7 separate regions of the Homo sapiens genome follow, and all the other regions are linked to region 6. Evidence: fine-mapped expression QTL. A gene starts in region 6. Each other region holds a variant in brackets. All regions are shown on one strand. Distances are between the middles of the regions. Region 1 overlaps ARHGAP26 (Rho GTPase activating protein 26). Region 2 overlaps ARHGAP26 (Rho GTPase activating protein 26). Region 3 overlaps ARHGAP26 (Rho GTPase activating protein 26). Region 4 overlaps ARHGAP26 (Rho GTPase activating protein 26). Region 5 overlaps ARHGAP26 (Rho GTPase activating protein 26). Region 6 holds the start of ARHGAP26 (Rho GTPase activating protein 26). Region 7 overlaps ARHGAP26 (Rho GTPase activating protein 26).

Region 1 (4,068 bases), 440 kb before region 6:
GGAATTTAAGACCAGACTGTAGAGACCTCCATCTCTACAAAAAAATAAAAAAAATTAGCCAGGCATGATGGGACACGTGTGGAGTCCAGGTTACTTGGGAGGCTGAGGCAGGAGGATTGCTTGAGCCCAGGAGGTGGGAGCCGCAGTGAGCTGAGATTGCACCACTGCACTCTAGTCAAGTGAGACCCTGGCTCAAAAAAAAAAAAAAAGTAAGTAGGTAAATAAATAAATAAGCAAGCCAAGAAAGGGCCTTGTTTTTTTCTCAAGTTGATAGGCAACTGACAGTCTATGGGAGGGCTTTTCCCTTGAGATCTCCCTCTACTGCTTTAGGATAGGCACAAAAATGGGAGAAATGACAGAAGAGGTGCTTTTAAAGGGGGCCATTCCTGTTGCCCAAGGAATAGGAATGGGTAGGGTTGCCAGATAAAATACAGGACACCTAGTTAGATTTGGATGGCAGAATAAACAATAAATATTTCTTTAGTATACGTTATGTCCCAAATATTGCATGGGACATACATATATGAAAAAATTTTTGTTGTTTATCTACCATCCAAATTTAACTGGGTCTGCTGTATTTTTATTTTATTTGCTAAATCTGGCAACCCTACCCAAAAAGTCTTATCTTCTTAAAAGCTTGTCAGCCCAACAAGTCAAGTGTCCCATAACTCCTTCTGAAAGGTCTTAAGCAGTTTGCTTTAGGTAGGGTTCCTACCAAAACAGACAAATCCTGTTGGCAGAGAGATTGTATTTGTAGGCTTTGGCTCTGATAAAAAAATAAAATAAAAAATCTCCACCAGGCATCATTGGTTCTTTGGCTTCCTATTCTCCACAGTATATCTCAAAACTGGATACAGAGGGCCTGGGGTAGTTTTCGGCTGCTCCTGTCAACAGTGCCCTTCAGACCTCAGCTGGGCCTTTAAGGGCATGAACAAGTTGGGATCCTCCTGCTAGTTCCCTTTTAATTTTCACCTCTGAGCATGGCACAAGGCCTGGAAAGCACTCACAGGAGTTTCCCTCAAATGCCCTTGCAAACCTTGCAAAATGATGACCCATTCGCCATCATATGGCACTACAGGGAGGTGGGACCAGCTAGACTGGCAGGTGGAAAGGGGTTGATCATTTAGGCATAATTTCCAGGGACCCCTGGGCAAATGCAAGTTACGGGTTTGGGGCTATCGGCTTTTTTGGGGGAGGGGTGAGCAAGTGAAAGAAAAGGGAAATACGGAGGGAATGTGTCTCCAGCACCCTTTCTCTACTGTGCTGCAAAAGGCATCTTCATTCCTGACTTTGAACAAACAAGGTCTATAAATGGTTTGAAGAGGGGACAGTGATATGGTTTGGCTCTGTGTCCCCACCTGAATCTCATCTTGTAGCTCCCATCATTCCCGTGTTGTGGGAGAGACTCGGTGGGAGATGATTGAATCACTGGGGACGGTCTTTCCTGTACTGTTCTCATAATACTGAATGGGTCTCACGAGATCTGATGATTTTAAAAAACGGGAGTTTCCCTGCACAAACTCTCTTTTTGCCTGCCGCCATCCATGAAAG[A/G]CGTGACTTCCTCCTCCTTGCCTTCTGCCAGGATTGTGAGGCCTCCCCAGCCACGTGGAACTGCAAGTCCGTTAAACGTCTTTTTCTTCCCAGTCTCGGGTATGTTTTTATCAGCAGCATGAAAACAGACTAATTCAGACAGTAAGCAATTTCCAGAGGAGACATCATTCAGAAGTTCATGGGACCACTGATTAGATCTAATTCAATATTTACTTATAAAGGCTTTGCTCAGGGAAGGAAATCTGAAGCTTCATGCTCTGGAAGTGGATTTGAGGGAGGCCCCAGTGGACCTGAATAATGGGTGTATACCACCACCTCTTTGCTATACACTACAGTGTACAGGTTTCGGCCCTCTCTGTTCCTCTGATGGGCTAGCTCCTCAGCAGTGTTGCTGTCTGTGCTCATCTGGGCACACACATTTAGTCCAACTCTGCCTTGACTATTTTTTTTTTTTTTGAGATGGAGTCTAGCTCTGTCACCCAGACTGGAATGCAATGGCACGATCTTGGCTCACTGCAAACTTTGCCTCCCAGGTTCAAGCAATCCTCCTGCCTTAGCCTCCTGAGTAGCTGGGATTACAGGCGCCCACCACCATGCCTGGCTAATTTTTGTATTTTTAGTAGAGATGGGGTTTTGTCACGTTGTCCAGGCTGGTCTTGAACTCCTCACCTCGGGTGATCTCCCCACCTTGGCCTCCCAAAGTGCTGGGATTACAGCTGTGAACCACTGTGCCCGGCCTGCCTTGACTATTTCAAGAGGGCAGCTTCCTAAAGGGTGTCCAAATAGTGCTATTCTAACAATGGCCAGGGGAGGAGGTACTGAGTAACTGTGACCCCAGACACACAAGATGGCAACAGAATGGCAGATTCTATTGCCATTGCCCTCTGTCAATCTGGAAATACTTTGGGAGGTAGGAAGAAGTAGGAAGGAAAAACAGTCTGGAAATATTTGGGGAGATGAAAACGAGTGAAGAGGTAGAGATACTTGACAAGAAACAGGGCCCCAAATCTCAGAGTCACAAAAAAGTGAGTACCATCAAGGCAGAGAGGACATTTTAGGATTTTAGCTGAGTGATTTCACTCTCTTGAGTCTCTTAACCCATTTTGTCCAAAGGGCCAATATTTTGAAGATTTTTACTCCATTTTGATAAAAATGAAGGAATTACATTTTCCTAAAGCCCAAGTTTCTCTAATGAGTAAGTGAGGCATTTTGGAAGCTGACTTGTCTGTGGTCACTTAGTTTCCTCTGGTTCAGGTCCTCATGATCTAATGAGAATAATCTATGCTATTTCTGGTATCTTAGAAAGTTGATGTCTCCCAAAGTGCCCAGAAGATGTCCAAGAAATGATTAGGAAATCACTAGAATGTCAGGAAGACATGATCTGAAAATTTCCCTTATTTATAGAGTGAGAAAAAAAAGAATTACTGAAAATCTCCTTCCCATCATCCAGGACAAAGCCAGGTAGAAAGCTGTATAAAACCTAAAAGAGCAAGTCAGGCTCTGGGCTGGGAGCTGCACGGAAACTCAAAGTTGGGGTTACCCACGTGTTTGGAGGAAAGAGTGCTGAGCTGAGGGGGAGAAGTCCTGAATTCTGGATTGGCTCTCATTTAGTCATAGCATTGTGTCCAAGTCACCTCCCTGTGTTTTAGTTTTCTTTTTCCACAGTAGGGTTCAGGCCATTTCTCTTCTCATTCTCACACGAGGATAGAATGAAATGATAGATGTGTAAGTGCCTAGTGGGGAATAAAGTAATATATGTATCTGTATATATATAAATAGCATGGGGTTTTCTTTTCTTCTAAAAGTGAAACTCGGCTTCATAAATTATTTAAGCCTCTCTGCTGGATCCACCCTTTGGAGAAAAAGACAGAAGGGAAAATACTCCCAAAGCCCAAAACGCTTCTGATGCTTATAACTGGGCTCTACAATTTGGTTGTCTGAAAGCTGAGACTAAGCTTGAGAGAGAAGCACGTTTAGGAGCTCCACAGCATAGGAATTCTGCAGGATCCCTATTCGTTCTTTTCCCGGTTGTAAAGAGCTCTTTTTTTTTCCCAAAGAGCACAAGAGCAAAAAACTTAAGTGCGGAAGTCACAAAAGCAGGGAAAACTACAGCATGGCCCTGAGAAGAGGAACTAGGTCAAGCTGCTCTCCCTCAGAGAGAGGTAGTGCCTGTTCCCAGGACAGCTCAGGCTTCATGACACACAGAGACAGAAGCAGGCTGGGAGCATGGATGGTTTCGGGAGTATATGGGGGACAACGAGGCATAAGCCGTGAGCAATTTAAGAGAAATCGCTTCGTCTCTCAAGCTTTTATTCTATGTTCGACGTCTCTCCCCCAGTGGATCTGGTCTAAGTGACTGGGTGTCAGTGCTTAGGGCCAGGGGCCCAACCCCACAAATAAATATTGCCTGACGCTGCCTGATAAACATGAGAAAAGAAAAGGTTGGCACATGTCCCAACACTGTTTCCTCTTATGTTATCTTACACCAAAGTGCAGAGAGCACATGAAATTGAGAGA
Region 2 (4,068 bases), 78 kb before region 6:
AACTGCCCCCACTGAAAGGATGATGTTCCTCTAAGGAAGGAGGAGTTAAACTGGTCACAAAGGAATTGACCAAGGAGAGATGGGGAGAATAACCCCTATGGGAAGAGGGGACAATTTAAACAAAAGCACAGAGGCAGGACACTGGGCTGCACACACGGGAAATAGTAGGGCCAAAAGAAGGGGACAAGCCATAGGCAGAGCAGGAGAGGTAGGCAGAGCTCTGAAGAGGCCTAGGGAACACAATGAGGGCATGAGGCTGCAGGAGGCAGCAGAGCAGAGTCTCTGTCTCCACAGAGGAAGGGAAGGAAAGATCCAAGTGAGGTGGCTCTGGCTGGGGCCTAGTTTAGAGGTAGCCAGGGTCTGAACCAGCAGTGGTTGGCGTGGTGAGAAGAGTGTGTGCAGAAGAACACCCGTGGGGTTTGGGGACTAACTGGGTGAAACAAATCATCACATGTGGGTCCAGAGGTTGTGCCTGGATGACGGGGACAGCAACAGCATTTTTAACAGAAACAGGGAGCATGGGAGGTGAAGCAGACTGGAGGAAAGAGGACAGAAACACGGCAGGATTGAGGCACCAGCAATGCATACAGATTAGAGATGCCAGCAGACATCAAGAAACTAAAGAACTGGAGAGGGGCTGGGGCTGCCAGAGGGAAGTCTAGGAGTCATGTTCATGTGGGTGGTGGCAGAAGCTAGGGACTGGAGAGATTAGTGACAAAGAGAGGCAGACCTTCTGGTTGGGGAGGAGAAGCCCACAAGGAAGGGAACCTTGAGAAGATCCACAGGACAAAGAAGGTGAGCAAGGAAGGGACGTTCAGAAGGGGATGAATGAAGCATGGAGAGCACACTGTCAATGGAGGAGGAGAGAATTTCAACACAGAGAAGGAATGTTAGCAAAATCTCACGGCGGCTGTTTGAAAGTATGCACACCTTCTCAAGCACCATTTGTCTTTTTAAAAGAAAAGCCAAATACAAATGGAAATGCTCTGGGAGGGGAGAGATAAGAGGTGTGCCTCCCCTGCTCTGAAGTCTTGGGTCTTTTTGGTGTGAGAACCTGTCTTACCCAAGAGTGAGAACACAAGAGTCCACACCTACTTCACAATGAAAACCTACTGGAATTGCTTTAGCTAGTGAAAATTATCCTGAGATGGTTTCAATCTTTCAAATCATTTGTCAAAACTGCTGACCTTGACTCCCATCCCTTTATGCCCTTCTAAAGTGTTGTTTGTGGCTCAGAGAAGAGGGTAATAAACACATTTGATAAAAAATCAAGTTAGAGTTGGGCATGGTATCACCATGGAACCAATAAACAACATGGAAGAGACTTCCAGTAAATTTCAGATCATTACCTCTAGTTTAAAACCAATTTAGTGCAAAGATAACCAATTGCTCCTGAGATCTCTAACACACCCATGTTTGTCCTCTGACAGTCATTACTTAGTAGGGCCAAGAAACCAAGTAGGCGGGAAAGAAAGAGCTGCCTGGCCCATAAATCGGATGCCCACTGGTTAATTCCCACAAGCCATGGCTAGGTTACATAGTGAGGGAGCAGGCCCCTGTCTTAAGGAACTTCCAATTTTGTAGACTGCTACAGGAAAACCTAACATATAAAAACCATGCAAAGAATCATATACAGAATTAGGGTACAGATGTTCAAAACTAATGCCATCCTTTGCCTCACTAAGGACTCATTATAAGCAAAATTCTTTCACACTGTGCTCACCTCGGCAGCTTCCACGCCACCTACACAACTATGATGTTCACACAGCCTTACTCTAACACATATGTTAGACAAAGTGAGGAGCGCCTGCACTCAGCTGATGTGCCAAGGCTGGAGAACCACCTATGGTGAGAATCTGACCACAGAAAACAAGGAAGAAC[T/C]GGAAGGGAGTAAAGGAGGAAAATGGGACTGGGAAAACCACAGGGCCACACACGCTATTCACTTCAAACAAGCTTTTGTTTGGTTCAAGGTTCTGTGGTCTTAAATTTAAAAGACCCCGGGGAGTGATGGCCACCCAGTCCTGTAATCTCCTATTACCATAAGCAATGTTGACCAAACAGCTCAGAGAGTATCAGATTCACTGTCCAGATAAAACCAAAACTAGTGTCTAGAGCAACTTACAGTTTAATACCAGGCGGCTGAGAGAGCTAGCCTTTTGCAATACAAATGAAAGAATTCCACGTCTCACTGTGGGCAGAAATCAACTTCTCCAACTGAAGTTCAAAATTCCTTTCTCCCAGATCACTCCCCTTCACCAACTAAAGCTTGCCACCTTCAGACACTGCCATTCAATTGGATTGAACAACTGTGTGTGGAGCCCCTCCCAGGTGGTAGGCACTCTTCTAGGACAGAACTAACCCAGCCCAGCCCCTGCCCTCATGGGCTTACACAGCCCCACCTCTGCTCTGAATCAGGATGCCTGAGCTCACACACAACCCAATTCTCAACCCTGAGTATCTTCCCTGATGTTCACTCCACCAGCAATGTTGCACTTCCCCACCTCCAGGTGTCCAGATGGGCCAAACCTCCAAATGCCATCTCATCCATGGAGTCCTCCCAGGCCCACGCCAGTCCACCTGCAGCACTGCCCACCACCCATACAACACAGGTGCTGCTTCTCTCCCTTGAGCCTCTTCGTGGCACTCTATTTGTGCCACCTAATGGCAGTTAAGACATCATCATCCTGGCCGGGCACGGTGGCTCACGCCTATAATCCCAGCACTTTGGGAGGCCGAGGTGGGCGGATCACCTGAGGTCCGGAGTTTGAGACCAGCCTGACCAACATGGAGAAACCCCGTCTCTACTAAAAATACAAAATTAGCCAGGCATGGTGGCGCATGCCTGTAATCCCAGCTACTCCGGAGGCTGAAGCAGGAGAATGGCTTGAACCCGGGAGGCAGAGGTTGCTGTGAGCCGAGATCGCGCCATTGCACTCCAGCCCGGGCAACAAGAGCAAAACTCCGTCTCAAAAAAAAAAAAGACATCTCCATCCTTTGCTGTATTCGCTGTGTGACCTAAGCTGAGGCAGCTTCCCCAAGGCTCAGGTTCTGTATATTGAAAACAAGGAGATAACAGTACCTAATAATAGTAATTTTAAAAATAGCCACCTTTTATTGAGATCTTACTGTGTATCAGAGAAATGCTGTGAAATTTACAAACATTGTTTCATTTGACTCTCAAAATCCCATGAGACAGGCACTGTTATCCCCGTTTCACAGATGAGAAAACAGAAGGTGAGAGAGGCACAGTGATTTGCCCAAGGTGCACCGAGAGCAAGCAACAGAGCTGAGATTCTCACTCTGGCAGCCCCACATGGGGCCCTTCATGAATCACCCCCCGCTACCCATTTTTTCACAGACCCCTTCTTAGGTTTCCTACCCACCTCATAAGGTTGTTCTGAGATAAGACGTGAAAAGTCCTTAGCACACCGAGTGGTTCTGGATCTCACTGTCCCCCCATGGTATCCTCCTTTAAGGGAGAGTTATTCACATACATGTATGCTTTAAGCATACTAATCAATACATATTGAATTAATGAATGAAGAAAGAGAAAACAAGACTAAAGGACATCTGCCAAACTACTCAAATAAGATACCAAAGTGTCTTACAAGTGGTTACTCAACATCCTATATATAGATTCTCACAGGACAGCACAAAATGTAAGTCTCTTTTGCTCCCAAATGTCTATGAGATGCAGTCTTCATTCTGGGGTATAAAGGGGAAGTGGCAGGGGTGGTCACAGCAGAGGAGTGAGCAGGAATGACATAGCACATCCTAGAAGCAGCAGGCCCAGTTCTGCAGCCCTTACTAAGATAAAATCCCCACTGAAGGGAAATCCCATCCAAATCCTCTTTGCCAGAGAGGAGAAGAAGGTCAAACAGACTAATCCTCAAAAAGACCTGAAATTCTGGCTCACCTGGGCCACACCAAAAGACATTCCCCTGGGAGCAAGAGACAGGCACGAAAGGTGGCATGCCCCACCCTCCCACCTATGCACTGGTGACTCCTCCTCACCCGACACATATACCTCGGCACCCCTCTGAGCTTGGATACAACTCCAGCCATGTG
Region 3 (4,068 bases), 270 kb before region 6:
TACTCTCTCCTTCACTACACTACTCAATCTTCTAGACCCAGCACAGATTAAGCATGAATATCATACTTTACATTACAGCTTTCATATACACACATATTTCACCCTATCAGGACTCCTTACAGAAAAGGAACAGCTCTTTCTAAAATTTAATCTCTAGCACCTGACATCTGTTCTAAGCAGCAGACACCCCACAAATGTTTGCAGCTCTGGTCAGAAATGAAAAACTAAGGATTGACACCTATTAGACTCTTAATTCTTCCTTATATTAGAAATTCTCAAAAATTGACCCTATCGCCATACAACCCAGCAATTTGCACACTCGGACATTTATCCCAGAGGAACAAATATATGCTCACACAGAAACTATATATGAAAATTTATAGAAGCTTTATCATAATTGCCCCAAACTGGAAACAACTCAGGTGCCCTTCAATAAATGAATGGTTCGACAAAGTGCAGTACATCCATACAATGGAATATTACTCAGCAATAAAAAAGAACTATTAATACATGGAACAGCAAAAATAAATCTTGAGAAAATTACACTGATTGAAAAACAATGCCAATCCCAAAAGGTTCTGTATTGTATAATTCCATTTAAATAATAATCTTGAAATGACAAAATTATAGAAATAGAGAACAGATTGCTGATCGCCAGGGGTTAGGCACAGGGTGCAAGGTGGGAAGTGAGGTATGTGCTTGTACAACATCACAAGGAATCCTTTTAGTGATGGAAGTGTTCTGCATCTTGACTAAATTAATGCCAATATTTTGGTTGTGATATTAAAATTGTGTTTTGCAAGATGTTACCTTTAGAGGAGACTGAGTAAGTGGTACACAGGATCTCTATATTATTTCTTACAACCGAATGTAAATCTACAATTATCTCAAAATGAAAAGTTTAATTTTTACAAAAACTAACCATATTTCAAATCTTAACCAAAAAAAACCCAGATACTCGTTGCTAGAGTACCTCGCAAATAATCATAGTTTTAAACAACAGATCTCACTCTAACTAGCAATACAATAGGGTTTTGGCTACAAGAAGTGAATGACTCTCTCAAAAAGAGGTGAAGACAGTCATTCTGGCCAACATGAGAGAAGAGATTTCTTTACACAAGAAAGCTATTTTCAGAAAGTGGGATGGCAAAAGAAATTACAAATACTAACACAAGAACTGTCCCTGTCCAAAACACTGAGCTGCGTACCCCAAGTGATAGTCCCTCTCTACAAGCCAGGGCTTCCATGGGGAGGAATAACAGCCTCTGTGAAACCTGATCTGTTTGCCATTTAGGTCCATGTGATTCATGGAGGCTGGCTGCACTCATATCTAAAAATACAGGAAATCTGCAGCCTAAGCAAATTTGGCTCATGGACTCATGGGCTTTTGATTCAAATACTGCACATTTGGAGACACTGCTTTGTATTTATATCAGCCAGTGGCAAAGGAGGTTCTGCTGCTCAAGTGACAGGTATTCGGTTGAAATCTAGAAGCAAAGAGGATCAGAAGATTTCTCTGGTTATATATATTTTATCTGAGAGTTACATGACACCTGCTCAGTATCAGGAACATGAACTCTGAGGTCCTCTGGAGCCCAGAATGATGCCTTTCCTTGGGCATTGGGTGTGTCCCACTAAATACCTGTCCCAAAAGAGAACGGAGGGAGTCATAAGCTATTAAAGACAGAGTAGGGTGTGGTGGTCACATGAGTGACTGAGTGCCACTTGGACCAGAGCACTGAGCCTACAGACAGAGAGGGTGTGGTGTCTGGGCCCTGGCATTTTTTATTTTGTCCAGTCCTACTCAGAACCTTTCCCAGCAGTGTCTGAAGCCATGACAACTGACCGATGGGGCAGATGACTTCTAGGTGACAGCTCACGGACACCCCGATTCCTTTGCCACAGGCTGTATCTACTCACAGACCTGGTGACTTTTCAGAGTGGGCCCCCCATCCAGGGACCTGCCTAGCAGAGCCACTGCGGCACTCACCCATCAGGACACTCAGCAACTTCTGCACTCTGGAGTTGACACCCACAATTCGATACAGCCCTTGCTCGTTGATCCCTGAGGAAAGAAACAGTGATGATTTAATTAGAGGCACGTCAGAACACAAGTCAGGCCAATCCAGCCAAATGCACTTTTTTTTTTTTTTTTTTTCATTTTCTCAGTCCTCCTAAAAGCTGCTCTAATTAAAGTCCCCTGTCACTCAGCTCAGCTCTTAGCAAACGAGTGGGATTTGGTACAGCTGTCTAGGATTTCACGGATGTGCTGCACACTTCAGCCCTCATGTTAGTTCAGTCATCAGCGGCGAAAGAAGCTTTCCTTTCTCTTGCCAAAGGCAGCATCTGAAGAGTTCTAAAAGATGCAAAATGTACACTTTTAAATATGTCATATTTAACCAATTTTTAAAATTAAAATGCCAAAAATGA[C/T]ATTAAAAATTCATACAACAGAAAAAGACACTTTATAATCTATTTTTACACAAAAAATGAAAATACGGAGGTGTAAGAATGTTTTTAATTTTAAGGAATGTTAGCCAAGACTGAGAAATTAGAAGATCCATTCATTTATAATACAAATATTCTTTATCAAAAAAGACCACCTTTATTTCAACCCAAGGAACTGTACAATTAGACTAGTAAGGGTTTACTTTTAAATTAAACATCTAAACAAAAAATCAAAAACTAATCCACTGCAGTGTTTCTGTTCATTTAAATACATGGATTAGATCACCACTGTACCATTTACAAAAGAAGGCAATTTAGACCAGGTGACTTGAAATGATTTTTCTCCTATTAGTTCCAGGCCCATCATATCTGACCCCTCTCAAGTAATAGAGCTCCAGCTTCCTATTTTATTCCTCTGATGTCCATTCTTCAACCAGTAGCCAAAGTGAACTGTCTAAAGTGCAAATTAGTTCATATCACCTCTTCTCTTAAAACCCTCCAATAGCTTCCCATTGCACTTAGACCATAATCAAAACTACTTACAATGGCCTATAAGGCCTATACTATCGAGCACTGACTACCTCTGATTGCATCATTGACCACATGCATTCTGCTCCACACACTGGCCTTCCTGTCACCTCAACATGCCAAGCTCATGGCCCCACCTCATAGCCTTTGCTCCAGCTGTTTCCTCTACCTGGACTGCTCTTCTCCCAGAGCTTTTCATCATTCAGATCTCAGCTTAAATGCAACCGCTTCAATCTAATGCAATCCACAATCAACATTACTGGTCATTCCCTTACCCTGTTTTCTTTCTTTATAGCAGTTAACAATATCTGAAATTATGTTTGTTATTTGATTATTTACTTGTTTTTTCTGTTACATTCTCAATAGAATGTAAACAGTAATTGTGTCCTGTTCACCATTACATCCTCAGTCCCTGGATCAGTATATGGTACATGATAATAAACAAAACACGAGATTATACTCCATCAAGGCCAGTATAAAATACTTGGGGGCCAAAACACAATCTTCCAAAAGAAACTCAGGAAAGGACCAATTCTGCAGTACTTTCAACAAGACCTATGTAGACATGGAACTAATGAATAAAAAGAAGTGGTCTGGAATGATAGAATTTTACAGCTAAAAAGGACCTGTAAAATCATGTACATCATTCTGCATGATTCACGGACTAGGAGTCCCTGGTCAAAAACTTCAAAAACTAAGTGATGGGTCCCAAGTTACTCAGTGGCAGAAACTTGATTCAGTAACATGTCAGCTTGTGGGCTTGAAAAGTCTTAAGTGTCTCTACTTCTTCTATCCTTGTGCTTTCCCGGGACTTTACACAATCCCACCTCCCACTGGACAATTGTCAAATCCCAGAGAGTATGGGAAGTCTGTTCATCTCTGATCACCATAAATACGTATGCACATACACACACTGCAATCGGGAGATACCCACTTTTTTCAACTATTTACGCTAAAATGGCACCTAACTCATACTGTCCTTATTTCTTCTTTGTGCTCAATGAAGACTTTCGTAGAAGTTAAAATACATCATTTCCATTTTCATTTTAGAGGGGGAAGAGGAACTTGTACACCTCTTCTTCTCCTACTTATTGT
Region 4 (4,068 bases), 33 kb before region 6:
CCTTCCTACTAAAATCTGTCCAGCTCATCTTTCTGGGTTCTGGTACTTCATTCCAGGTTACAGCTGCCTCATTAGCTATTCCAAACCTCAGTCACACTTTTGGGCCTTCATATAAACTCATTTTTCGCTCTCCCTCCTCAAAAACCTGCTAAAAGTAAAATACAAACTTACCACATGACCTAGCAATTCCACTCCTAGTTACCTACCCAAGAGAAATGATACATCCACACAAAAACTTGTACAAAAATTTCATAGTAGCAACATACATAATAGCCAAAAAGTAAAAATGATCCAAATGTCTATGAACTGGAGAATAGAAAAACTAAATGTGGGCCAGGCGTGGTGGGTCACACCTGTAATCCCAGCACTTTGGGAGGCAAAGACGGGTGGTTCACCTGCGGTCAGGACTTCGAGAACAGCCTGACCAACATGGCAAAACCGCACATCTACCAAAAATACAAAATTAGCCAGGTGTGGTGGCACATGCTTGTAATCCCAGCTACTTGGGAGGCTGAAGCAGGAGAACTGCTTGAACCCGAGAGGCGGAGGTTGCAGTGAGCCGAGATTGCGCCACTGCACTCCAGCCTGGCGAAAAGGGTGAAACTCCATCTCAAAAAAAAAAAAAAGAAAAGAAAGGAAAAAAAGAAAAAGAAAAAGAAAATGTGGTATAGCCACATGATGGACTACTATTCAGCAATAAAAAGGAATAAGCTCGTGACACATGCTTCAACATGAATGGACCCGAAAAACATTATGCTAAGTGAAAGAAGCAAGACACAAACAATCATACGTTGAATGATTCCATTCATACAAGATGGCCAGAAATGGCCCACATACAAAACACAGATTAGTGGTTGCATGATGGTGAGAGCAGAATTCACTACAAATGAGCAGGAAGGAAATTTTTCTGAATAAAAAGTTTAAAAAAAAAAATCTGTTCAGCCCGGGCATGGTGGCTCATGCCTGTAATCCCAGAACTTCGGGAAGCCAAGGCAGGTGGATCACCTGAGGTCAGGAGTTTGAGACCAGCCTAGGCAACATGGTGAAACCCCGTCTCTACTAAAAATACAAAAATTAGCTGGGTGTGGTGGCACATGCCTGTATTCCCAGCTACTCGGGAGGCTGAGGCACGAGAATTGCTTGAACCCAGGAGGCAGAGGTTGCAGTGGGCCGAGATCACACCATTGCACTCCAGCCTGGGCAACACAGTGAGACTCGGTCTCAAAAAAATAAAAATAAAAAATAAAATCTGTTCAAACCTATGCTTAATAATATGCTTGGAAGAATTCAGTAAGTTTCCATTCAGTGAGTGAGCCAATGAGTGAGTGGGTGAGTGAATGAATGAAAACTAGCTTCCCAGAAGCATCCCTGGTTAGACCAAAACTAGGTCCACATATTTCATTCACCCTAGTCAGCCTCGGCAAGTTATGTGTAATAGTTACGGAATAGCAAGTTATTTGTAATATATATATGTGTGTGTATATAATATTGGGTCTCGTTCTTTGGATGAAGTTGAACCATATAAAACTGTCGTTTTTTGTAGGTCAAAATTGTTACATACTGGCAATTTCATATGATTCAACCTATACTTGCAATATTTGATAAGGAGTAGAGACAGAACAGGAACTTTTAGGTCAGGCTGACTTTACGGCTGCAGGCTCCATCCCACAGCCTAAGCTTCAGTCTCCTCATGTGGAAAATGGGAATAATAACAGGATCTTGTTCACAGGGCTGCTGTTAAGGATTACTATGACAGTGCGTGGAAAGCACCTACCAGTGCTGATACAAAGTCACAAAGGAAGTGTTGTGTAAATACCTGCTGGTCCTATCCCTCTCTGGAACTATACACTCCTCAGTGATCAAGGACCAGGCCTTTGACTTCTTTTGTTTTTGTATGTTGCCTATTTGTGCGTTCCCTTGGCATGCAGAATGGGATGTTCACTGCTGGACTCCTCCACAGATAAGGCTTCCTACCTGCTATTAAAGCCCAAGAACACATCCCCAGATGCCACCAGAGTCCCTGCCTGCTGACCTCTAACTGCTCCAGGGTGAACTGCTGACGTGCTGCAGGAGGATTCTTATGATTCCATTCCCAACATCCTCCTTGTCGCATGTTCGGCAATAGCGTGAGGTTGAAGGAAGTGTCATCACAGAGATTTC[C/T]GTCCGGCTTATTTCTCAACAAAAATGTTTGGCTGCTATGCAACCAGTGTTTTAATAGATGACGGGACCTTTCGTGAAAGGCCAGGTTTCTATTAGCAACAACAAAGGACAGGAGCTATGGGGCAGATGCAAATAAAATCATACCTCTGCATCCTATTTGAAATTCCTCAACTCATTTTCAGCTATCATAAAGGCAGCCAAAAGATTCCAAATGGGGAAACAATGAGACAAAATTAGAGGTGCCAGACTTCACCAATAAAAATGCAGAACAACTAGTTAAATTTAAGGTAAACTACAATTATATTGGGACATATTTATTCTGAAAATTTTTCATTATTTATCTGAAGTTCAAATTTTACTGGGTGTCCCATATTTTATCTGGCAACACTAGATTTAATTGGCATCTCAGATCACTATTTTATTTCCCAAACACAAGACACAATGTACTTTCAGTTCAATTAACCATTCTTTCACCAGAAGAAACTATGCAGACCAGAAAGATAAGGTTCCCATACTTTATGACAGTCTGCGCATGAGGCTGGATTAAGGGGTATCTCCCCGCCACTACACACTGGAACTTCAGTTGGCCCTGCATGGCCCCAAAACACTTAATATGGACTAGAGGCTTACTGAATCCTTGAATGAGCCCTATGGGGTAGGCCCAAGTATTATTTTCTCTACTTTACAGGTGAGGAAACTGAGGTTTGGAGAGGATGAAATCTAACTCAGGTTTGGGCCTCCTAATTTAAACAAACAAATAATGTCAATGGGCCTCTCATCAGAGTCCCAGACTTGGTCTACTGTCTACTCTAGTGTCCCTGAGCTAATTCTAAATTTCCAGTGCCCTAGTATGTGCATTGTATTTCAATACAGCTGTTAAAAAAAAAAATTTGCCAATGCCTACTTTTTCATCAATAAAACTTCAATCCCAAAAACACTCCAGAGCCACTTCAACTGACGATTACAATTACATGGAATCCCCGCTTAACATCGTCGATAGGTTCTTGGAAACTGCAACTTTAAGTAAAACAACACATAACAAAACCAATTTTTTTGTCCTCAACATTACAATAAAAACTACGTTGAACAAAATGACATTATTCAAGAATCCATTTTACTTAAAGCCACAGTTTCCAAGAACCTACCGACAATGTTAAGTGAGGACTTACTGTACTTTTTCTTTCCTCCATCTACTGGCAGATCTCAGCAAATTGACTTCGCATGGACCTCTCCACTAAAATTAAGGACCAGAAAAATAAAAGGAGACCAAACTTTAAACAAGGTAAATCCTGCTAACTGGGTACAGCTCTGTTAAAGAATGCTCAGAATAAAATGAAAACGAAATCTGAAAAACATCAACTTCCACACATCTGTTTATAGCCTTCATCACCAATGATAACAGGATGGGGCAAAATTGTAGCCATTACTGTAAAAAGAAAATTATCTGGATATTGTTGTAAACAAATACCTCATTCATATAAAAGGTACCACAGAATAGTTTCTCTCATCTCAACTCTCACGGCCTCTGGAGCTTCCAGGGATTTAAGAGGGAACAGATCCCCTCTGATGTTCTTCTTTCAATCTAGTTTTTATCCTCTCTCCACGAGGTTACGGAATCTGACCCGCACCCACTCCAGTCTCACCAGACAGAAGGCAACTCTGCACACAGATCCCAGACCAATGACTGGCATTAGACATAAGTATCAACAGCACGGATTTAAAGTCATTTTTTAAAAATGCAATGTTTCCCTAAGGGCTGTGGGCTTCTCTAACCACAAAAGTTTAAGACAAGGTACTTTCGTCCCTATTCCTTGCAAGGAAAACAGTTGGGTACAGTGACATTCTTTGAACACAAGAGCAGCCAAAGGCGGGGGCTGGGGGAGGGGTGGGAATTCTTCATCATCATAT
Region 5 (4,068 bases), 250 kb before region 6:
GGCAGAGGCATACACTGGCTGCATCTGCCAGTCTAAAGCTAGCTGAGAGAGAGGGTAGATTTGTCAAGTGTCTTTTAGGACAAGCAGAAAGGCTTCTGATTATCCATGCAAGTCCAAGGAGTACCACCACCAGTCATAGCTTTGGGGGCCAGGGTCTCATCAAACAAAATAGCTGGGAACTCAAATAATAAAATATCTGCAAAAACAAGCTGTTCCTGCCCCTTCTTCTCTCTCCAGCCCCCTGCCCTCCGAGCCAGGGCTATTCTAGAGCTGGGGTATTACAGCTCAACTAAATGTAATTCAAGCTCAATGCACCACAGCAACTGTGTTGCACAGGCAACTCATAATGAAAAGTGAGGTGTAGAAAGTCAGCACCTAGGGAGAGCTAGAATTATACCACCTCGCCTGACTGCGGCTCAGAAGATGAAAGTGGTGGCCACGGAAACTGCATGCACAGGAGAGAGGAGAAAGGGGAAAGAAAAAGGGTGTGGGGAGGAGGGCAGGAAGGAACGCAGGCAAGGGAGGGAGGCAGAGTGTCTGTCCTCTATCAGCTCAGACCTGGCAGGCCTGGAGAGAAAGCTGGAGGGGATGCTGCACTCAGCTGACTGCCTCGTGGGCCAGTGCATAGGCGGCCAGGCCACTGTGCCCATTAATGCCTTCCACCCTTCTCAGGTTTAAAAGGGGAAATGTTCTATTTATAAGCCACCGACCAGCAGAGGCCTGGCAGCCTCTGGATGGTTCTGATCCCAAAAGGATCCTGGTTACCGGTGGCTGCCTCCTCCTGCCTCTCAACTGTGGGTGTTCTAACAGCAAAAGGCCAAAGGTGACTAGAAGCAAAAGAAAAACAAATCCTCTTTTCTGCCCTCTGCTGCTTTCATGAGACGGTGGATTTTTGGTAATGGCTGAAGGCTTTAGATGTCTTTTAAAAATAGTGGCCCAGGCGATCCCATCAAGGCTTTCCCTACAGTTTTCAAGCCTAAATCTCCTTTTCTGTTTTACAGATCAAGGGAGGCTGAGGAACAGAGATGAAGGAAATGTACAGTCAGAGGCACAACAATAGGAAACAGAGCAATGGTAATGATGTCCCTCCCCATCTCCTCTCCTGGTCCTCAATCTTGTCCTCATAAAACAAGGCAAACCTGAATAAAACGCCATCAGGGAGTTTGCTCTGAATGACGGCCTAAAGAAGGATGAGTGGATGTACAGAAACAACATATAAAGCATTATGTTGTGTTGCCAAATCCCTGTGGGAGAGTGGTGGGCCACACTAAGGGTCTGACCCTGGGGAAGCCAGTCAGTGAAATGCGTGACCCTTGTGCACCCAGCACTGTGCACAGGTGTTTGAGGAACCACTGAGGGCTCTAATGAGGTGGTGCACTAAGAAGGAATATGGGATGGCCCCTCAGCCACAAAGAACTAGAGGGGTTAGATGTTGGAGTCTGATGATGAAATTCCTTCCAGCCCCCATGGGTGGACCACATATGAACAGGATGGCAGAATGGATCAAAGATTTCAAGCATATGAAGTGTTGCAGGAAAAAAATGACCCTGGCAATGAGGCAGGCTAGGGTTTGAGTATGAGCTTCACTACTTCTCAACTGTGCTCCCTTGACCTCTTTAAGCCTGTGAGCTCCTTTGGAAACTCAGTTGCTGTGAACAGCATTTGTACAAATGGCAGCCCATCGTGTGACACTTTCATGCTCCCTCTCAAAACCTCATGCCATCCCATTTAGACTAATTTTAAAAACTTAGCCTTGTGTTAAGCCAAGGGTTAATAAACTACAGTCCCTGGGCCAAATTCACCATTGCCTGTTTTGTAAAACAAAGTTTTACTGGAAAACACCCACACCTGCTCATTTCCATATTGTCTGTGACTGCTTTCACACTACCATAGCGGAGTTGAATACTCCTATAAAAATAAAAATATTTACTATCTGGCCCTTTACTAAAAAAAGTGGACCCCTGTGCTAAGCAATAACATTTGTAAAATCAGGGGATTGGCCAGGC[G/A]CAGTGGCTCATGCCTGTAATCCCAACACTTTGGGAGGCCGAGGCAGGCGGATCACCTGAGGTCAGGAGTCCGAGACCAGCCTGGCCAACATGGTGAAACCCCATCTCTACTAAAAATAAAAAAAATTAGCCAGGTGTGGTAGCAGGCACCTGTAATCCCAGCTACTAGGGAGGTTGAGGCAGGAGAATCACCTGAGCCCAGGAGGCGGAGGTTGCAGTGAGCCGTGATCACACCACTGCACTCCAGCCTGGGTGACAGGGGTCTCAAAAAAATAAATGAAATAAAACAAAATAAAATCAGGGGATTTCAGAGAACTTATGTTCCCCCACAATACACATCAAAATAAATACAGAAGTCTAGATGGTAATTTAAAATATACTCTCTCAAATGACCTAGTGTACCACCAGTGGTGTGCACACCCCACTTTGAGAAATACAGTAACGAGGATTAAATGAATGAACACTCATAAAGCACCAAGACTGAGAAACAGTAGCAGGTTGTCTTCCTCCCTTCAAGAGCAGTGTTACCAATCCAGCTGGCTTTTCCTTTCCAGTGGGTTTTTCCTTTTGTTGTGGGAGTAACTGGCCTGGCCAGATGATAAGAGTAATAACCAAGAGTAATTAGGCACTTACCAACTAATGTGCAGATACTAATGTGCTGAACTTTCATTCTTACAATGAGTTTATGAAGCAGGGGTATTATTATCCCCATTTTACAGAAGAGGAAATGGAAGCTTAGAGAGGCGCACCACCTGTCCAAAGTTCTACACCCAGGATGCTATTCTACACCAGCCACACATTACTCCTCCATGCAAACCCTCTCTCTAATCCACGTGGCGGAATCTACCCAAAGAGAATGATCTGAGATACGTACAAAGGCTGATGTACAAGGCCAATAACTGATGAAATTAATAACTTTTGAAGCTATTATGAATAACATAGGCCAATGTTATTTGTAATACCAAAAACCTGGAAAGAGCATTAGTCTAACAATGATAAATGATTCAACAAATTAAGATATAGTCCAATGACAGAATATTAAACAACCATGACAGGTGATACTTCTAAACATTTCATGACATCAGAAAATGTCTGTAATTTTTAAAGCAGAATACAACAAGCATATTCAACATAATGCCAGTTAAATTAAAATTCATACTGACATTGACAAAATACATACAAGACATCATTTAAAAAAGGCAAGAAGGAAGTATCTCTGGGAATAATATTACCAATGATTTTTGACTGAATGTTTCAAAATCATTTTGCTGTATTTCTGTAATATTCTACAATGAGTTCATATTTCCTTCTTCAATCACTGCTCTTCTCCCCACCTCCCAGTGTGAATGACAAATTGGCAAACTGCAGTGGGTTCTTCAGCATTTTTATTCAAATATAAAGGATTCTTATAAAAGCACTAGATTAGGCCAGGTGCAGTGGCTCACGCCTGTAATCCCAGCACTTTGGGAGGCCGAGATGGGCGGATCATGAGGTCAGCAGATCGAGACCATCCTGGCTAACACGGTGAAACCCTGTCTCTACTAAAAACTACAAAAAAATTAGCCGGGCGTGAGGGCGGGTGCCTGTAGTCCCAGCTACTTGGGAGGCTGAGGCAGGAGAATGGCGTGAACCCGGGAGGGGGAGCTTGCAGTGAGCGGAGATCATGCCACTGCACTCCAGCCTGGGCAACAGAGCAAGACTCCATCTCAAAAAAAAAAAAAAAAAAAAAAAAGCACTAGAGCACTAGATTAAAAACAAACCACAAGGAAAGAAAGGACTAGGACTTGGATGCAAAGAGGAGGAAGTGTTATATTTTTTCTTCTTCTGGGGAGGAGAGAAGGGAGGAAATTTCCATTTTTCAAGTGTAGCTCACTCTCAAATCCATGAGCTCTGGGCATGTAGTCTGCACCCTGGGTACTTCTGTAGATGGTTTGAATATGACATACACCCACACGATGTAATTGGGCCATCTGTCTATTGTTCCCCTGTGGTCTGAACCTCCACAGCAGATCACATGAGCTTTAAAGGTAGAGACAGATGTGTGTTCTAGTTATGAGTGTCC
Region 6 (4,068 bases):
GCTGTGTGACTCAGAGGTAATGCTTCCCCCAGTCTCTGTTTTCTCATTTGCAGAATGAATCTAAGCACATGAGATAATTATATGTGAAGCAGTGCCTGGAATGAAGTACACCTCTGTAAGCACAGGAGCAGCAAAATATTCACTCCTACACCCTTAGTGCCCAGTGCAGTACCCAGTACACCACAATCACACCAAAAGTTTGCTGAGTGAAGCAGAGAACTCACTAAAGCCAGCCTGAGGTTCAATCAAAATTCCTGGGCCCAACCTGTAAGTGGGCCCCTAACTTACTCCAAACCAGGGACCCCCATCCCCTAAACCAAGAATGGCCTTGATTATTGACAAAGGAAGGGTCTGTTCATATGTTTCAGGTAAGGCACAGCCTAAGAATCTGCCTCTAAGAAGCCTCATCACATCACAGTCCTGTGTTCATTTCATCCCAAAAGATTGGCACTTTGGGCTGCCCTGGCATTCCATTGTCTCTCTCTTCATTTTTAGAAGCAACAAGCTGACAAAATGACATCTCAGGCACCTGACTTTTGTAAGTGCCCTTTAAAGAGGCCTGGGAACAATTCCCACAGCTACGACTCTACTCTGCTAAGGCAAGATTTCTTAGCTGAAAGGTATCACCTACTAAGAAATCCATCACAGAAACAGATACAGTAACAGAGTCAGAGACAATTCCACTATCTGCCTTCATGTGGTTCCTGATTCTTAAAACTAAAAGATGGACTGAGCTATTTTTAAATGGGGAGACTGAAAAGGCACCAAAAACGTTCTCACAATCCAAAGCACTCATCCCTAGAGCACGCTTATTTGGCCAGAAAAAGAAACTCTCTGGCTCTGCAAAAGTGAAGCAGAATGCAAAATTGCATCTCTCCCCTTGTACCAAAAGGAAAAAACGCAAAAATGGTTTTACAAAAGGTCCAAGAATCTTTGAAATACGTTTGAACTTCTTTCTGAGAATTATGGATATTCCTTCTCAGACCTTTACAAGGATAACGGAAGAGGTAAAAAGGAGAGCTTGGGAGCAGGAGAGGGAGAGAGTTGGGATATGTACATTCTATTTTTAAACCCTCGCCCACAGTTTAGAGTAAAGGAACACTCTGATTCTCTACTCCCACCCCTATCACCTTCTGCTAAACACAAGAATCAGAACCTGCGCACGTACTGATTCCAGATTTAGAGATTACTGGCTGCCAATACTCCAAGGAATCGCAAGCTAACCAAGCATTCCACCCAGGGAACCCGGCGGCCTGACTAGGCTGGAGCTGCGTACAGGGAGCGAAGCAGTCACAACCCACCTTTTCCCAAGGGGAGGCAGCGCCCCCTCGGCAGGGCACGCTCCATTCTCACGGTTGGGCACTCAAGGCTGAGCAACTCTGCCCCTAAGGGAGCTGGAGCTGTGGACACGATGGGATCTGCCCGCTGGCTGCGGCGCGCTCGGCACTCTGGCCCCACTGCTGGGACACCTGCGTGCCGCGCACGCCCACGCCCACCCGCGCTGCCCCAGAGCACCACCCGCGCTGGGTCACCTCCCGACCATCCCTGAACGCAAAAGGCGGAGCGACGGGTCTCTCTCTTCATCTGATGGTTGCTGGTTCGCCCGCTTTACGTATCCTTCCTGCCTCGGAGGCGTCGACACCCGTCCCCCAGTGTACCGGGAGCAGAAACCCGGCAGACGCGCGGGCAACCCGGGCTAAGCGCCACCTCCCAGTTCCTCCCGCCCCGGAGCCGCGTCCCCGAGGGGCTCGGGACACTCACTCTTGAGCGCGCTTATGAGTGACTTCCCGTCCTTGATGAGCTCCTTGATGAATTTGTTGGTCTTGTCCAGCTCTGCTTCGTGCGACTTGAGCGTCTCTCGGAAGTGCGGACTATCGAGGCAGCAGTCGCTGAACTCGAGCGCTGGGAGCCCCATGGTGCGCGCGGCGCCCAGCCGGGGGGCGCGCCTCCGCCGGGGCCCGGGCCGCCCGCCGCCCAGAGCACTCACGCGGCGGGACCCCGGCCGGCTCCCCCGACGGCCGCCGGCTCCACAGGTGTGGCGCTGGCTCACTCCGCGCGCGGTGTCCGCCGGCGCGCAAGACTCCCGAACCGAGCTCGGACCCGGCCGAGGTGCTGCTGTTCCGGGCGCGGGCAACGGAGCGGATCGCGAGCAGGAAACGCAGCGCGGACCCGCAGCGGCGCCGGGAAGCGAGCGAGCGGGCGAGCGAGTGCAGACGCCGCCTCCCCGCCTCCTTCGCTAGCTAGCTCTCGGCAGCCTCGAGCGCCCTCTCACAGCAGCCTCGGCCGCCCCGCCGGTGTCTGGGCCGCTCGAACCTGCTAGCGATGACTTAATCCCCGCCGGGCCAATCAGCGCACCCTCCCCTGCCCGACCCTCAGGCCGCCCGAGGACGCCCGGCCCTTCCGCGGTCTTGATCCAATCAAAGGGGCCTGGAGGCAGGGTCTGCGGCTGGGGGCGTGGCCCTCGCCAACGCCTAGGTCCGCAGCGCAAACTCCGCCTCCTCTTGCCCTCCCAGCGTTGCAGACCCCGAAACCTAGGGGTGAGCGTTGCTGTGCACCCGCCCCCGCTACCTTGCCCGCCTGCTCCAGCCCGAATCCGAGCCACGCATGGCGAGTCTGCTGGTCCTGGGGGCCGAAGAGCCTCGATGTGCCAAGCATGAAAAACCTGGGGACTAGGGCTGCAGTTCACCACCGCCTGCCCTGCACTGCGGGGCAACCGATTTTACACTCAAAATACAGCCCCCTGCTCCGGGAGAATCCCGAGCGACCAAACGCTCCTCTTCCAGTCAGGCAGAAAAATGTTATTTGCATCTTAAAATTACCAGCTCTTGCCTGCAGTCTTCCCGCCCCCTACGGTCCGTCCCCCTCACGGCCACTCCTGCTCAGAACCCGCCCACGGTTCCCCTCAGCCGAAGGAGCTCACATCATTACTAGAATTTCAGCCGCCTGTTATTTTCCTGCTCTGCATCTAGCACAATTTTACATAATAAGATGACAGTCTACTGCCTGTCATCCTTCGCTACACGGTAAGCCCCACGAGGGCAAGTGCCCCTGCAATTTTCTTGTCCGCTGTTGCATCCTGGCACCTAGCACAGTGGCTGGCATTTAATAACAGATATTGAGCACTTACTATGTGCTGTGTGTGCTACGGTGATTGATAAATGTAGAATAAATGAATGGATCCTTTCCCAGAGCCATCTCCACCTCCCACGCCCAGTGCGTTGCCCTGTAGTCCCTCTGTTCGACCGCAGGACTCAATTCTGGCATCTCACTCGTTGCACTTGTCAGGCTGGGTCCCACAGGGTGTCTAGTGCTGAATTGTTAACTCCTGGAGGATAGGGACTGTCCTTGAATAAATTATCTCTATGTCTAGGAACCAGCAGCCCTCCTTCAGCTACGTGGGGGCTTCATGTTTGTTTGGGTTGGTTTGTTTTTTAAATAGGTCTGCTATGTGCAGGCACTAGCCTAGATGGTAAGAATACAAAGATGAATAACAGAATGAATTTAGCTGCTGGTGGTATTAGGTGAGATGGAAGCAAACAAGCGATAACCATGCCTTGTGATAGGATAGAAGGCCTGGGTGCTTGGGAACATGGATTTTTCACTCAGGAGGGGTCAGAGGTGTCCCATCTATATTAAGAAAGCAATTAATGTATTAAATTCATAAATGGAGCATGGTGGCTCACACCTGTAATCCATAACTTTTGGAGGCCAGGTGAGAGGATTGCTTGGGGTCAAGAGTTCAAGACCATCTTGGGCAACACAGCGAGACCCCCCCCATCTCTACAAAAAATTGTAAAATAAATAAGTAAATGTATAAATAAGTGAATGTGATCTCTTTGATAGGTGTATCTACAAATTTAGACTTGATAGCAGGTCCAGACAGCTATCTGATAGATAATTACAACCCAAAAACAATTGTTCTTCACTTGCCAAAGATGAGAAAGATCTAGAATGGAAACCCTATGAAAGTAAATCTGTTTAATGCTTTATCTTGAGCACCTAAAGGTAGGTGTTCTGGTTATCTATTAATACAGAATAAATGATACCAAAAGTTAATGGTTTAAGACA
Region 7 (4,068 bases), 66 kb before region 6:
GTACGAGTTCTAGTCTCAGCTTTGTCCCTATCCAGTTCTACAGCTTTGACGTGGTCACTTAACTTTTCTGAGTCTGTTTCCTTGTCTGTATAATGAAAATTTCAGACTAGATAATTCCAAAGCTGTCTCTTTTTCCAAAGTTGATCCCACAACATGACTACTAGACACAAGTGCCTCAAACCAGCTTGTTCTGTGCATTTGTAGCAAACAAAATAAGAACAATAATATATAAGCCCCACTATATACAGGACACTCCAAGATGCTTACGAATTCATTTAATTATTTTTAATGGTCACAACCATCTTGAAATGTAGGCATTATTGTCCAAGATGATAAAAGCAAAACTCAGAGAAGTTCAACAACCTGTCTGAGGTGACACAGCCAATAAGCGTGGCTAAACCTAGATTCTATCCCAGGTTTACCTGACCTCATACCTGCATTAGTATATCATTATGCCTTTGGCCATCTCATTATAAAATTAACTTCCTTTGTATTTCTCTGTTCAATCAAAAGGTAAGAACAATGAAAGCTTGGCTATAAGGAGGAAGAAAAATGCAAAACCTATTTCCTTGTTAAGGTACCATACAAACATTACTACAGAATCAATCAATATTTTACCCTTAACTTTTTTTTTTTTTCTTTTAGATGGAGTCTCACTCTCTTGCCCAGGCTGGAGTGCAGTGGTGGGATCTCAGCTCACTGCAACCTTTGCCTCCTGGGTTCAAGCAATTCTCCTGCCTCAGCCTCCTGAGTAGCTGGGATTATAGGTGCCCACCCACTATGCCCAGCTAATTTTCGTATTTTTAGTAGACGGGGTTTCACCATGTTGGCCATGTTGGTCTCGAACCCCTGACCTCAGGTGATCCACCTGCCTCGGCTTCTCAAAGTGCCAGAACTACAGGCATGAGCCACTGCGCCCAGCCTACCCTCAACATGTCATACCTGCAAACACTCAGATTGCTATCTGCCAATATCCCTGCAGGGAAAAATGAAAGATCTGATTACTGTGAAATTATGTACATAAATAACTATTCTTTTCTTCTGCTTTCATCTGAAGCAATGTGAGGGGCAAAACTGTTTTGTATTGTTTGAGTTAGTCCTAAGAAAAGAGAATGAGCTGGAGTATAAATATATAACTATTCTACCAAGGCTGACGATCCAGAATCTCATAAACCATGATGCCCAAAAAGGAACAAGAAGAATCAGGGATCTTACGAAATACTCAATACTGATTTCACATTCAAAAGTATCTTCTACTGCAGGGAAAAGATAGGACTAGCTCACCCTTAAGCTCCGCAGCTGCACAAAGTACCAAAGGGCAAGTACAGGGCACAAGGCAGGAGAAGCAGGCACAACTGGCCACTGCAAGCCTAAAAACCAGGCCTTCTTATCATCGCCAAGTGAAGCTCAAGTGAGACGTGAGAGTAACAAGATACCAAGTTCGAATGACGTGTTCACTACGAGGAACCCAGGGTGGGTGGTAGAAGAGGAAAGCAGAAGTGAACACAAAGCACTAAGGCTGGTCAGAGGGAGAGGGTGAAAAAAAAAAACAGAATTTTGCCAAGATCTTTCTTCCCTTCCTTAATTCCTCTCATGGGAAGAACAGAACTTTCCAATAGAGTATCCTCCACTGAGCTTAGAGATACAATGGGAAACTTTCTCATGACGTCTACCCTTTTGTTTTCTCTTGCCAAGTAACTTAAAAGGAACCTAATCCCAGGCCTTCTTGCCTCCAAACTTCATTACTTCATCCCAAGAACTCAGAGGAAAAAATGGAAAGAGGATAAGGTGAAGAAAGAGTACTGACTACAGAAGTTCCAGATAATGAATTTTAGACAAAAACCGTTTTGGTTTCCAAATGCGTTCTGCGAGAGATTTAAAGGGTGCCTGAAG[G/T]ACACATCAATGGGGTAAGTCACCCAGGAAAAAACAGGATTTGAAATATGAAAAACCTGAGCTCTGATCTCAGTACCACCTGGGCTACTTCCTCCCTACCTGACCTGAGGCAAGTTACATAATTGTCCTTCAGTTTCCATGTCTGGAAAGTAGGTACGATAATACCAATCTCATAAAACTGTTTTAAAGAATACATGAAATAATACCTGTAAAATGCCTAGTATGGTATCTGATCCAAAGGTTTTCTAAATTGGGAAGGGTGGCAATAACAACATGAACCATAAAGTCTTATTTATATTTGCAATTTCAAACTCCTTTGAACTACTCCATGGGGAGACTAAAACTGGGGTACCCTGCAATTCTATTCCAATCCTTACTCTTCTAAGTAACCCGGAGACAACTTCTGTGAAAACACAGGCCTCGAGATGTCTCAAAATACTCAGTGATGCCAAGGAAAACTATGGAAATTACTTCAGACTGAGTGCATGGGAGACTTCTTCTTACTTGAAGCCTCAAACAGAGAAATGAGAAGAGGTGGTCTAATTAGCATAGGTGGTCTAATTAGCCCAGGTAAAGGGCTTTGAGCTCCTGCCTTACAGAGTATCTTGAATTCTGGCATTGGGAAAAAGGAACATCTCTTTAAAGAGTAAGTTGTAAATGATTTATATGACTGGTTCATCACCGGGGAAAAAAGCTGTCAGGCTTTAAGGAAGCCAGCTCCTCTCTTCAGAGGGGAAGAATGAACCACAGATTAAGTGAAAAGCCAAAACCCCAGAGAGATCATTAACTGAGTGAAGCAGCAACTTGGCATCACCAGTTCAGAGCCCCTGCCCAGGATGCCTGGACCCAGAATTAAACATTAGAGGAGGGAAGTGGGTTGATGATATCTTACTTTTGCTCTCCAAGAATCCAGACACCAAGTCAATGTACGTGAAGATTCCATTCCCAAGAACCAAGAAAGGGTACCAATGCCCTGGATTCAGATGCCCTGGCCTGGGTTTAAATCCTGGCTCTGCCATTTACTAACTCTGTGAATTGCTTCAACTCTGCGTACCTGAATTTCCTAATATATAAAATGGGTGTAATACTAAAACTAATCTTAGAGGGTTTTGTGATGATTTGATTGTACAAGTTAATAACACAAATAGAATCTAATTGAGATCACTGTAAGAGCTAAATTAAATGAAAATTATTATTATCCATCTCTTGGTGTTGGTGGCTAACCACTATTGGGTTTTTATTATGTATCATGTGCTAACCATGGGTTACCTAATTTCATTCCCCACAAACCCTGTGAGACAATGTGTGAAAAGTACTAAGCTCAGGGAACTCCATGAACATAGAAAATGCTCAATAAAAAGGATCCACTCCTTGCTATTATCATTACCAAATCACGAAATCACCAAATCAAATCCAAAACACCATTTCCCTCCATTTTGAAAAGACACCTGGGTAAAAGACAAGTCAAAGAAATTGTGAGACTTAACCACCCTATAAGCATCTATCTGGGTAATATGTCAGTTGGATGTTTTTGATGAATCAGAGACTCTTCTTGTATCAAATAGACTTGATATTACCTTGACTATTTCACTTTGATAAAGATTGCAAGACCCAGGAGTTAAATGAATGGGGCCACCTGAATACTCTCTTACACGGGGTATCTAGAACCAGAAGAAAAAGAAGACATCTCTATACCATAAATTCTATCTCTGATGGGTTAAGGTACAAATGTGCTTTGAAGAACAGCCATTCCAAGTCCAGAAATGTTTTCATGTTGTTAAAGCATTAACTTCAAATCACTTCATGAGATAAACAGAGGCTATTTCAAACAATGAAAGAAACATCAAGAAAAAGAAAATGATTTAGTACAGATCAAACTTGATTTACCAAAGAAAAGCAATCCTTAAAAGCTCTCCTATTTCTGATCTAATCCTCTTCTATCAGATGGAGACAATACATCCCCTACTAGCCCCAGGCATCCTGGCTCTGTCAACTGACAGTGTTCACACGTGAACCAGGTGGAACAGAGTCTCAGTATTATAGAGCTCTGTATTAACAATAAACTTGGTCTACACAGGATCATAGCACTCTTTGGGTGATATGGTAGATTGCTAATGGCCACGCACCTTTAATGCATGTTCCTTTGCAACGTGACTTTGCCATTCCTCCCATTCA

What was found. PIP is the estimated chance that this variant, and not a neighbour inherited with it, causes the effect.
Region 1: its variant is fine-mapped to the expression of ARHGAP26 in whole blood (TOPMed, PIP above 0.99).
Region 2: its variant is fine-mapped to the expression of ARHGAP26 in nasal epithelium (TOPMed, PIP 0.96).
Region 3: its variant is fine-mapped to the expression of ARHGAP26 in whole blood (TOPMed, PIP above 0.99).
Region 4: its variant is fine-mapped to the expression of ARHGAP26 in whole blood (TOPMed, PIP above 0.99).
Region 5: its variant is fine-mapped to the expression of ARHGAP26 in whole blood (TOPMed, PIP above 0.99).
Region 7: its variant is fine-mapped to the expression of ARHGAP26 in whole blood (TOPMed, PIP 0.99).

What each region holds. Positions count from the first base shown.
Region 1 is chr5:143,207,720-143,211,787 of GRCh38, reverse strand. All of the region lies in intron 21 of ARHGAP26 (Rho GTPase activating protein 26), which reads right to left. Among named protein-coding and RNA genes, the nearest start is that of ARHGAP26-IT1, 17 kb to the right of the region's middle. RefSeq lists an enhancer at 4,053-4,068. The variant A/G (reference allele first, on the strand shown) is at 1,552.
Region 2 is chr5:142,846,275-142,850,342 of GRCh38, reverse strand. All of the region lies in intron 1 of ARHGAP26 (Rho GTPase activating protein 26), which reads right to left. Among named protein-coding and RNA genes, the nearest start is that of ARHGAP26-AS1, 21 kb to the left of the region's middle. The variant T/C (reference allele first, on the strand shown) is at 1,882.
Region 3 is chr5:143,039,813-143,043,880 of GRCh38, reverse strand. ARHGAP26 (Rho GTPase activating protein 26) reads right to left here. Exons shown (of 23, transcript NM_001135608.3): 14 at 1,991-2,065. Among named protein-coding and RNA genes, the nearest start is that of ARHGAP26-IT1, 150 kb to the left of the region's middle. The variant C/T (reference allele first, on the strand shown) is at 2,431.
Region 4 is chr5:142,801,665-142,805,732 of GRCh38, reverse strand. All of the region lies in intron 1 of ARHGAP26 (Rho GTPase activating protein 26), which reads right to left. Among named protein-coding and RNA genes, the nearest start is that of ARHGAP26, 33 kb to the right of the region's middle. The variant C/T (reference allele first, on the strand shown) is at 2,161.
Region 5 is chr5:143,020,303-143,024,370 of GRCh38, reverse strand. The region is part of intron 12 of ARHGAP26 (Rho GTPase activating protein 26); the gene reads right to left. Among named protein-coding and RNA genes, the nearest start is that of ARHGAP26-AS1, 150 kb to the right of the region's middle. RefSeq lists an enhancer at 2,376-2,465. The variant G/A (reference allele first, on the strand shown) is at 2,007.
Region 6 is chr5:142,768,609-142,772,676 of GRCh38, reverse strand. It overlaps ARHGAP26 (Rho GTPase activating protein 26), which reads right to left and starts at 2,300. Exons shown (of 23, transcript NM_001135608.3): 1 at 1,762-2,300. The coding sequence starts at 1,915. RefSeq lists an enhancer at 826-1,661 and silencers at 1,957-2,076, 2,087-2,496.
Region 7 is chr5:142,834,832-142,838,899 of GRCh38, reverse strand. All of the region lies in intron 1 of ARHGAP26 (Rho GTPase activating protein 26), which reads right to left. Among named protein-coding and RNA genes, the nearest start is that of ARHGAP26-AS1, 32 kb to the left of the region's middle. The variant G/T (reference allele first, on the strand shown) is at 1,894.